Linked DNA regions of Homo sapiens: region 2 is linked to region 1. Evidence: fine-mapped expression QTL. A gene starts in region 1. The other region holds a variant in brackets. All regions are shown on one strand. Distances are from middle to middle. Region 1 holds the start of NTNG1 (netrin G1). Region 2 overlaps NTNG1 (netrin G1).

What was found. PIP is the estimated chance that this variant, and not a neighbour inherited with it, causes the effect. A credible set is the group of variants that fine-mapping cannot tell apart.
Region 2: its variant is the best candidate, but not a certain one, in a credible set for the expression of NTNG1 in esophagus muscle (GTEx, PIP 0.71).

Annotation. Positions count from the first base shown.
Region 1 is chr1:107,138,485-107,143,016 of GRCh38, reverse strand. NTNG1 (netrin G1) reads right to left here and starts at 1,978. Exons shown (of 8, transcript NM_001113226.3): 1 at 1,877-1,978. RefSeq lists silencers at 1,284-1,563, 1,584-1,873 and an enhancer at 1,807-2,338.
Region 2 is chr1:107,196,471-107,200,470 of GRCh38, reverse strand. All of the region lies in intron 2 of NTNG1 (netrin G1), which reads right to left. Among named protein-coding and RNA genes, the nearest start is that of NTNG1, 57 kb to the right of the region's middle. RefSeq lists a silencer at 3,271-3,320. The variant T/C (reference allele first, on the strand shown) is at 2,031.

The DNA of each region.
Region 1 (4,532 bases):
ATGTTGATCCACATGCAGAGATCCAAATTTTATCTTAATGAAAAATCGAAAGTTGCTTATCTTCAAAAAGAATCTTGGACAGTTACTGAGCTGCTTTTCCTTTGCCAAAGAGAAAGGGAGGCGGGTAAGGCATTCAAAGTGACACAGTTCAAAATACTTAATGAAATGTGGAATTGCTAATTCCCTCACTAGAGATCCTCCTCAAGGGACAAACAAAACAGAAAAGCCTCCCCTGAAAAAAAAAAAAATTATTTTTTGGAAAACTTTCCAACAAGCTTAACTACTAAGCATATCTGAATAAGTGATTTTAATGGAAGATCTTCCTGGGTTTTTTTTTTTTTCATTTCTGTAAGATAAAACAACTTTTAGTATTTTCAGTCATAAAACAGGGCCTTATTTCTAGAGCAATTCTACTGCCAGATTCACCATATGTTTAGTGGAGTTCTGAATCTTACTCAGAATTTTCCATTCCAAAGATTGACAATTTGTTATGAGGAGTGGCTCCATTATTCCCTGTATAAAGAGAAGAATGGGTGAGAGAGGAGGACCGTCTACTCACTGGAAATCTGTACCTGATGCAACTATAGGAGCTCAACCTGCGACTTTTCCAAGTAAAGTTGCTTTAAAATCCCCGCTAGGAATTTTCTTCCCTTGCCCTGTAAGATGACAGCCTACTCTTAAGTGGATTTCTGAAGGAAAAAAAAAAAAAGTCCCCGGGTGAGGGTACTAAAATTAACAGCAGAGGGCGCAGTTTCTTTTTATATCTAAGTTTTTCCTTGTATGAATCACTTAATTGGTTATTTTAGGCCCAATAATATTCAGTATTATTTGTATTATATATAGATATCCACAGATCCATACAGGAGTGCAATTCAGTGTCCCTAGCCGAATCCATCAACCGATTAATATGATGCCAGTAAAGAATATGAGAGAATATTCCAAACAGCATCCCTACACCAAGTCTTCCTCTTTCAATTTCCCTTTCTCCCCAGCTGCACAACATGGGATAGTAATGTTTTAATCTAGCACCAATAAAGGCGATTAAAAGAAGGGACTTCAAAAGCTCTCGATGTGGCCACCAGATCCCCAAGGCCGGCAATAGGGCAAGTGTTTTTTTGTTTTTTTTGTTTGCTTTTCCCCAAACAAATATAATTGGCGAAAGAAAGAAAAAATAACGACAAGCCGCCTGAGCGATGTGTGTGGCCAGGTGTGCGTGAGAGAGGGAGAGCGCGGGGCCCCTGTCAGTCGGCGGATGGAGGCTCAGACCCCACGCCTGGGCTCCGGACACAACAAGAGGACGCATCACCGGCCCGGGGCGCACCCCCGGGAAGACTTGTGTGTGGGTGTGAGCGTGTGCCGCTGTGTGTGCGCGTAGGGCTCCGCGCGCTGCCTCCTCGGGGCGCTTTACAAAGTTCCTCGCCCACCCGGAGCCTTCCCTCCCGCCTGTGCATCGCAGCGGGTGGGGCGGGGGGCGGCGGGGGGTGGGGAAACCCGGGGGAGAGGGGCACGGGCGAGAGGCTCGGGTCGCAGTAGGAGAGGCGAGCCGCAGGCACTTACCGTGTGGCTCGTTTGCCCTTGCGCCGGGCGGGAGCCGAGCCGACGGCGCGGGGCGGCGGCCCTGCGCAGCCAGCCTGGTCCGCCTCGGGCGGCGGCCGCAGCAGCGGAGCCCGCGGGCGGCGTACGGGCGGAGGGCGGCAGCTCCCGCGGAGCCTCCTCCCCAGGCGGGAGCGGGCGGAGCGGGAGGGGTGGGCGTGAGGACCCGAGCCGCCGCCACCGCCGCAGCCCGGGGATTCCGATCGCGCCCGGCCGCCGGCGGGAGAGGACCCCGAGGACCGAGAACCCAGCGCCGGCCCGCCACTCCCCGCCGCTTAATTACCTTCGCCTCCGCCCCCGGGGGGAGCCTCCTGCAAGTCGCCCCCTCTCGGAGCCCGCACCCAGAGGGGGAATTCCTTCCCGTTGACGTCCTCTTCCGAAATGCAAAAGATCAGTGACTTTGACAGGTAGATGAGGGGGAGGGAGTAAGGGTGGGCGGAGAGGAAGAGAGGATGAGAAAGGTGCCTCTCCCTCCAAAAATATAGTGATATTAATAATGAGATCTCAGCCTTCGGAGGTCGTGCCAGCCCAGTCCCCTGCTCGCCGGCTCTCCTCCGCGCCTCCTCGCTCCGCTGCCTCTGACACTTCTCGCCTTAAACTTTTACTGAGGGATATTTTTTCTTTTTTCTATTTCTATTTCTTTTTTTTTTCCTCTTTTTTTTTTTTTCAAGCCGCAGGACGATTTTCTGGTTCCCGGGGATCAGAACCAGCGGCCAGGCGGTTCTATGCCGCTTGGCACCGCTTTCATTTTATTTCAGATGAAGACGTTGAGCTTAGTCAGAAGGGGCATAAATCAGGACAATTAGCATTGGCGCCAAGAAGATCCTCTAATACCAATTTCGCCCGGGTTTCCTTCGCGCATTCCTCCACTCAAGTCAGAAATGTCACTGCACATAGCACTGATGGCAGTGAGACGCGACGCACCCAAAGTCCGTTTGATGAAATATACATGGCCCACGACGCTTCTGGATTGCGGCTCCCGGACTCCCCGCCCCCACCAGCGGCTCCCGGCCGGGACCCTGCTCCGAGCGGGCAGCGAGCTCCTGGCAAACTTAGGGGCCAGTGCCAATTAAAGAGTGAGCGCGAGAGCCGGAAAGAGGAGCGGCAAAGAAGCAAGCCCGGGGAAGCCGCAGCCCTCGGAGGGGTGGCATGTACGTTTCACTTAAAAAGCAGATCTTCTTCTGCAACTGCCAGCAAGTGGAAGGATAGCAAACCTTATACTACCTCGAGACCTGTGCGCTCCGAGCGGTCCTAACTCCGTCCCGCTCGCTGTTGCTGTTGCTGGTGCTGCTCCGGCTGCAGCTGCTGCCGCTCCACGACCTCGGGGCGCTGAGGCAACAGGGCCCCCTCCCTCTACTCCCCATCCCCCCCGGCTCCTCCACAGAAGCGCCGTTTCCAGTAACTCCTCGTGTACCTCCCACTTCTGCCGCCGTCCATCCCACCCCTCTCTCTTCTGTCCCCTCCCCAAACCGTTCCCAAGCACACCCTTCGCCGCTGGAAGTGATCACAATGTTGTTTTTCAACAAGCACTTCCTTTGCCCGGAGGCCCCTACAGCCCTAGACTGGAAACTCCTCCTTTAGAAATTCATTCCCCTTTAAAAAGTTGAAGTTCAAGGGAGAGCTGCGCATTTCAGGCTTCCTTGCCTTTTCTAAGAGAAAGACAAATGCTCCGATGCTCCAGGCTTCATTCCCCACCAAGGCGGGCTCAGACTCACCTGGGATCACTCTTAGCTACACATTAACGTCAAACAGAAACAAATCCGAATTTAGATAAGATAGGGAGACTTCCATTAGAAAGAAAGACTATTGCAACAGGGAAAACGCTCTGATCTCAGAAATCTGCAAACCTCTCAAAACCAAACAGAAATCGGCCTTTTTTTTCTATATATATAAGGGGGAGCAAGCAATAGGCAAAGCCAAGTGGATGGGGGAAACAACTCACTTCAAGACCCTCTTGGTTGAACAAGAAATGTGTCTCTGTGGTCCAAGAATTTGGAAGATAAGCTAACAATGGTGAATGTTTCACATTTTAGTTCTTGCTCAGATTTGGGGGGCAAGCTAAATTCCAGGGACCTGCTGGAGAGAAGCCTGACTCATGTTTGGTCAAGGCAAAGTGGCGGGTGGGGGGGGGGTGGAAGAAATGGGCAATTGTGAACACTTAGTCACTATGTGTCCCACAATTAAGGCAGGAGGCTGAGTAATTGGGTCATTTTTCTGTGATGACTGGGGGTGGTGTGGTAAAAGGATGGATGGGGGAGAAGTTTGTTGAGTTGGGCCTATAACCAGGCCCTCCTTGGCCCTGGGCAGCCAGGAAGTGGGCAGGGATTTCAGGCACCCCCAGCCTTCCCTCTAACACCTAAGAGGCCACAATAAGTCGCCTTCGGAATCTCTGAGTGCAGGAATCTGGGATTCATGTGCTTTCCTCTTTCCCACCTTTGTCCTGTAGTGCTGACATTGCAAAAAAGAGTTACCTGCAGGGCTGAAACTCCTACCAAGGGTTCTTAGACAGTGGCCAAGTCTGGCTCTTCCCCCTGTCTCTAGCCATGCTCCTCCAGGTTTAAAACATACTGACTATATGGAGATGTTACTCACCACCTAATCCTCCTTCACAGGCCCTTAGATCCCAGTTCTTTCTATGGGAGCCCTTTGCAATAGGATATAATAAACAATACCAAGAGTGGCCTTCTTATTTCTCGTTGGCCCCTTGGCCTAGATCCTGAAATACAGACAGTTCTCAGCCTTTCCTCTCTCTTGCCCTTCTCTCTCAAGCCAAGAAAGCCTTTCTGAACTCTCATCCTCTGCTTTATCTGGTCATTTAAGGCCCTTCTGTAGTAAAAATAAAATAAATCTATGCAGAGATTAGAGAACTCTCTTCTGGAATATACCAAGATCTTTGTGATTTTGGCTCCCAACCTGGAAAAATACTTGTTTTCATCTGT
Region 2 (4,000 bases), 58 kb before region 1:
CATGAAAACATTATGAAAGACTCAAAAAGAAACTCAAGACACTGTGATCAAGAGAACACAGACTGTTTAAGTTCAACCACAGACCATATGATTAGTTGATATGCTACCAAGTATCACTAATATGTTATTTTGTTATTAACAAGAAATGTTATATAACAAGAAACATGTTATTTTGAAATGGAGGGTGCCAGGATTATCTTTGCCACTCTTGTACTTACCTAACAAAGAGTGAATGACCAAAAGAATGTTTATGAATGACTAAATGAATGAATGTTAATATTAGTAGCTAACCACAGAGCCCACCCTAATGTATCAGTCAGAGATTATGGTGAAAGAAAGGAATGGTTACAAAAGCAGTATCCAAGAATCTGGCATTGTCACTAGAGTACATATCTGGCTAAAGAAGGAACAAATCATAGTACTTGTCATGTCTAGTACTTCTAACAAATTGAGAGAAAACCCCATGATTCCATGAAGATCAAAAACTGGTGCTGAAAGATTCTAGATAAAAGCATCACTGCTTCATAGAAACTAAACAAACAAATCCTGGTCCAGAAGGTTACTGATTGATAAAAAGGATTATCACAAAGACATTGAGTAAGCCAAGAGGATTTGTATTTTTTAAGGATGACAATGGATTTCTTAGGGATATTCCATTATAGCTTCCACTGAAATAGTCACTTTACTTTAAGAGGACCAGAGTTGGGTCTCTGAATTAATTATGGTAATTTTGAAGTATCTACGCGAGAGGAGGACTGTGTGTATGAATAAGTAAGTGTCACTTAGTAACATTTTCTGATGAATAAATCAGTTTAAAATTGGAAATCTGTGTCCTCTGGTAATTTCTTCTAAGCCTTCTTTCCTGTGAAATCGCTTTTCAGAATTAACACATCTAGAAGACATTCATTAAACATTTGTTGAATGGATGAATTTTGATGTGACATTGAGATAATACTTAGTATTACTATAAAGTAGTATCCAGTACATATTTTTAATAAGCAAATGTTTTGCAATGATTATAGGACTGCAATACAATTTAATACTCGTGTAGAAGTTACAAAGATATAGATCTACAGTGAGCTAAGGTTGTGCTTCACATATTCAGAAGTCTCACTATAGCATTTTTTTTATGGCCTAAATACAACATATGTAATGTGTGCCAAATTCCAGAATTAGGAATAGAAAAAAAAAAGAAGTAATAAAATTGGTGAAGAGATCTGGCTACATGAGAATACATAAAAGAATTAAGAAAACTGGGGAGATAACTGAAGGTAATAAAATCATAAAATGATATATAGAATATATGGTATTATTAAGAAGACCTTGGCCTACTAAAAGAAGGGTGCACTTTTAAAATCTTGAGTTTATTTTAGCACTATATCAAGAAATTTCAACTTTTCAAAGTGAGAAATAATTTCTGTAACTCATTGTTGACTAGAAAATTTCAAAAAAAAAATAGCAATTTCAGAAGAAACTAAATAATAAATTGCTGCACAGGAGATTCATGGGAAGCATAAAATATTTCGGTGTCTCATTCCTAATATCTTTAAGTCAAAATCAGTTGTCCCCAGAATATAGCCCGTTGCTCCATTAATAGAGACAGAATACAGGACTAAACACTCCATGAGCCAAGTTTGCAGGGGATTTGGAAAGCCTGCGTGTGATATCAAGTCAAACAATTTTAGAGCCAAACGCCCTATGAAACCACACAGTGCAATGTTCTCATTTTACATAATGAGAAAACTGAGACCCAAAGAGATTAAGTATCTTGCCTGAGGTCACACAACTAACAAAAGGCAGAAACTTGCTAGAATCTAGACTCCCTGAGTCCCCAGTTCTAAGTTCTTTCTCTTACATGTTTACTCTCCCCAAAACACAAAAATACGAAGGGGAACAAAAGAAGCAGACACACAAGTACTGAACTTTTGGACAAATATTATTTCTCCCCACTAAAGATGGGCATTAAAATCTTTGATTTCCTGTGATGTAATTTTATTTTGTCTTTGTATAAGCAGACTAGAGTTTGGAGA[T/C]AAGGATACAGTTTTTACTGTTCTGGAAAATTTCAAGCATATACAAAAGTAGACAGCATAGTATAATGAAACTGTCATGTACTCACTATCCACCTTCAGTAATTATCTCAATAGTAATCTTGTTTGATCCATTCCCTACTTAATCCTGTCTCCTTCCACAATATAATTTTGAAGTCAAGCCAAGAGCACATCCATAAGTATATCAGTATGTGTCTCTAAATGTAACTACAACACCATTATCACACCTAAAGAATGAAACATCATTCTTTTCCAACACCGTTAAAGTCACTGTTTAAATTTCCAATTGTCCCGTTGGTGTCACATTATTTAGAATTTGTTCTGAAGCAAGAACATTTTAAATTTTACTGAAATATTGAAAATGCAGAATATCTAAATAAGCTGTAGTGATGAAAGTTACACTAGAATCTACCTTTGACATTGCACCTCAAAGAATAGGAAAAAAATGTGCATTATCATAAGGGCCTGGGAATAGGATCATTATTTTTGTATAATCACATTAAGTGACCCAATTTAATGCATAGAAAATTATGTGAATAGAGATGAGCTTATGATTTAAAATAACAGTGGCCAGGTGGATGGCAATGTTTACACACCATGGTGCACCAGATTATCAATTATATCCATACATCCAAATGATCCTGGGCAAGGTGCCACACAGAGAAAGAAAAATGGATCCTACTCTGTCACTACGTGAATGTGTATTCTAATGTCATGGCAGGGATTAGATAGGGAGCACCATAGGGGAAACACTGTAGGGAAAACCAGTGGAGCCTGAAGACAGAGGGCCAAAATCTCATCCAAGCCAGAATGTAGTCCTGCACAAATCTGTTGAACTCTCTGAGTGTCGCCTTATCAGCATAAAAAGAGTAGCCAAGGTGGCATCTGAAGACCCTTCCATATCTAACACTCAATGGGTCTAAATATTGTCAACCCATTCTTATATAATATGCAGAACTTCAAAGATATCATTTCATTATGAAACTAAATGTTGAAAAATTGCTTCATCTGCCACACAGTTTCTAAAGAACAAAATTCCAAAGTATTGACGTTTGCCATTTCTCATTAGATTGTGTCTAATGAGAAGGCTCGGTGACACTGTAATTGGCTGTTGTAGAGGGCAGCATTTGGGAGTGGCAGTAAGCCAGCAGAGACCTACCTAGTTTCAGCACAGCTGACCCTTGTAACTAAGGCTGCAGAACTAATCAGACCGCATTTCCTGTGTCACAAGCCTAAGGGTATCATACAGACATATACAGCGCCCCCTGTAGGTTGGTCAGATTAAGCAACTAAAAGTACTGCATGCTCAGTTAAAATGTTTCACATAAACAATAAATAGTTTTACACTAAACTTTTATACGCTAAAACTTGTATAACAACCATATTCATTGTTTACAATGAATTCAAACTTAACTGGTTGTCCTGTATTTTATTTGGTAACCCTAACCCCAACATGCATGCACGTGCGCACACACACACACCCGCCCGAGAATGACAAGGTTTTCATAGGCTCTTAGTCTGACACTATTATAGAAAAATATGACATTAGAGCTGATATTTGGGAGAATGCACATACAGTCCTGAAAGACACAGATCATCCATAATTAGAATAAAATATTTTTATCTTTATTTTATCTAAAATTTAAAATGCATATTGATATTGGCAGGTAGAACTCTTCTTTTCTACCCAACATACTTAGTTTATTAATAAAACTCATAACAGTTTTTCCATAGAGAAACTAGTTTCCCTTTGACAAACAGTTCTTGCCTGGGTGTTATGTTGTCATCATTTACTGTACTCCTCACAGGAAGTTGAAGCAGAGAAAGGTTGTGTTATTTTTTCAAAGGCACACATCTATCAAAGAGCAGAATTAAACAGAAGACAGGACCCAAGGACTCCGAGTCCATCCCACTACTTCCCACGATCTACTTTCCTCAACTTCCATGGGATA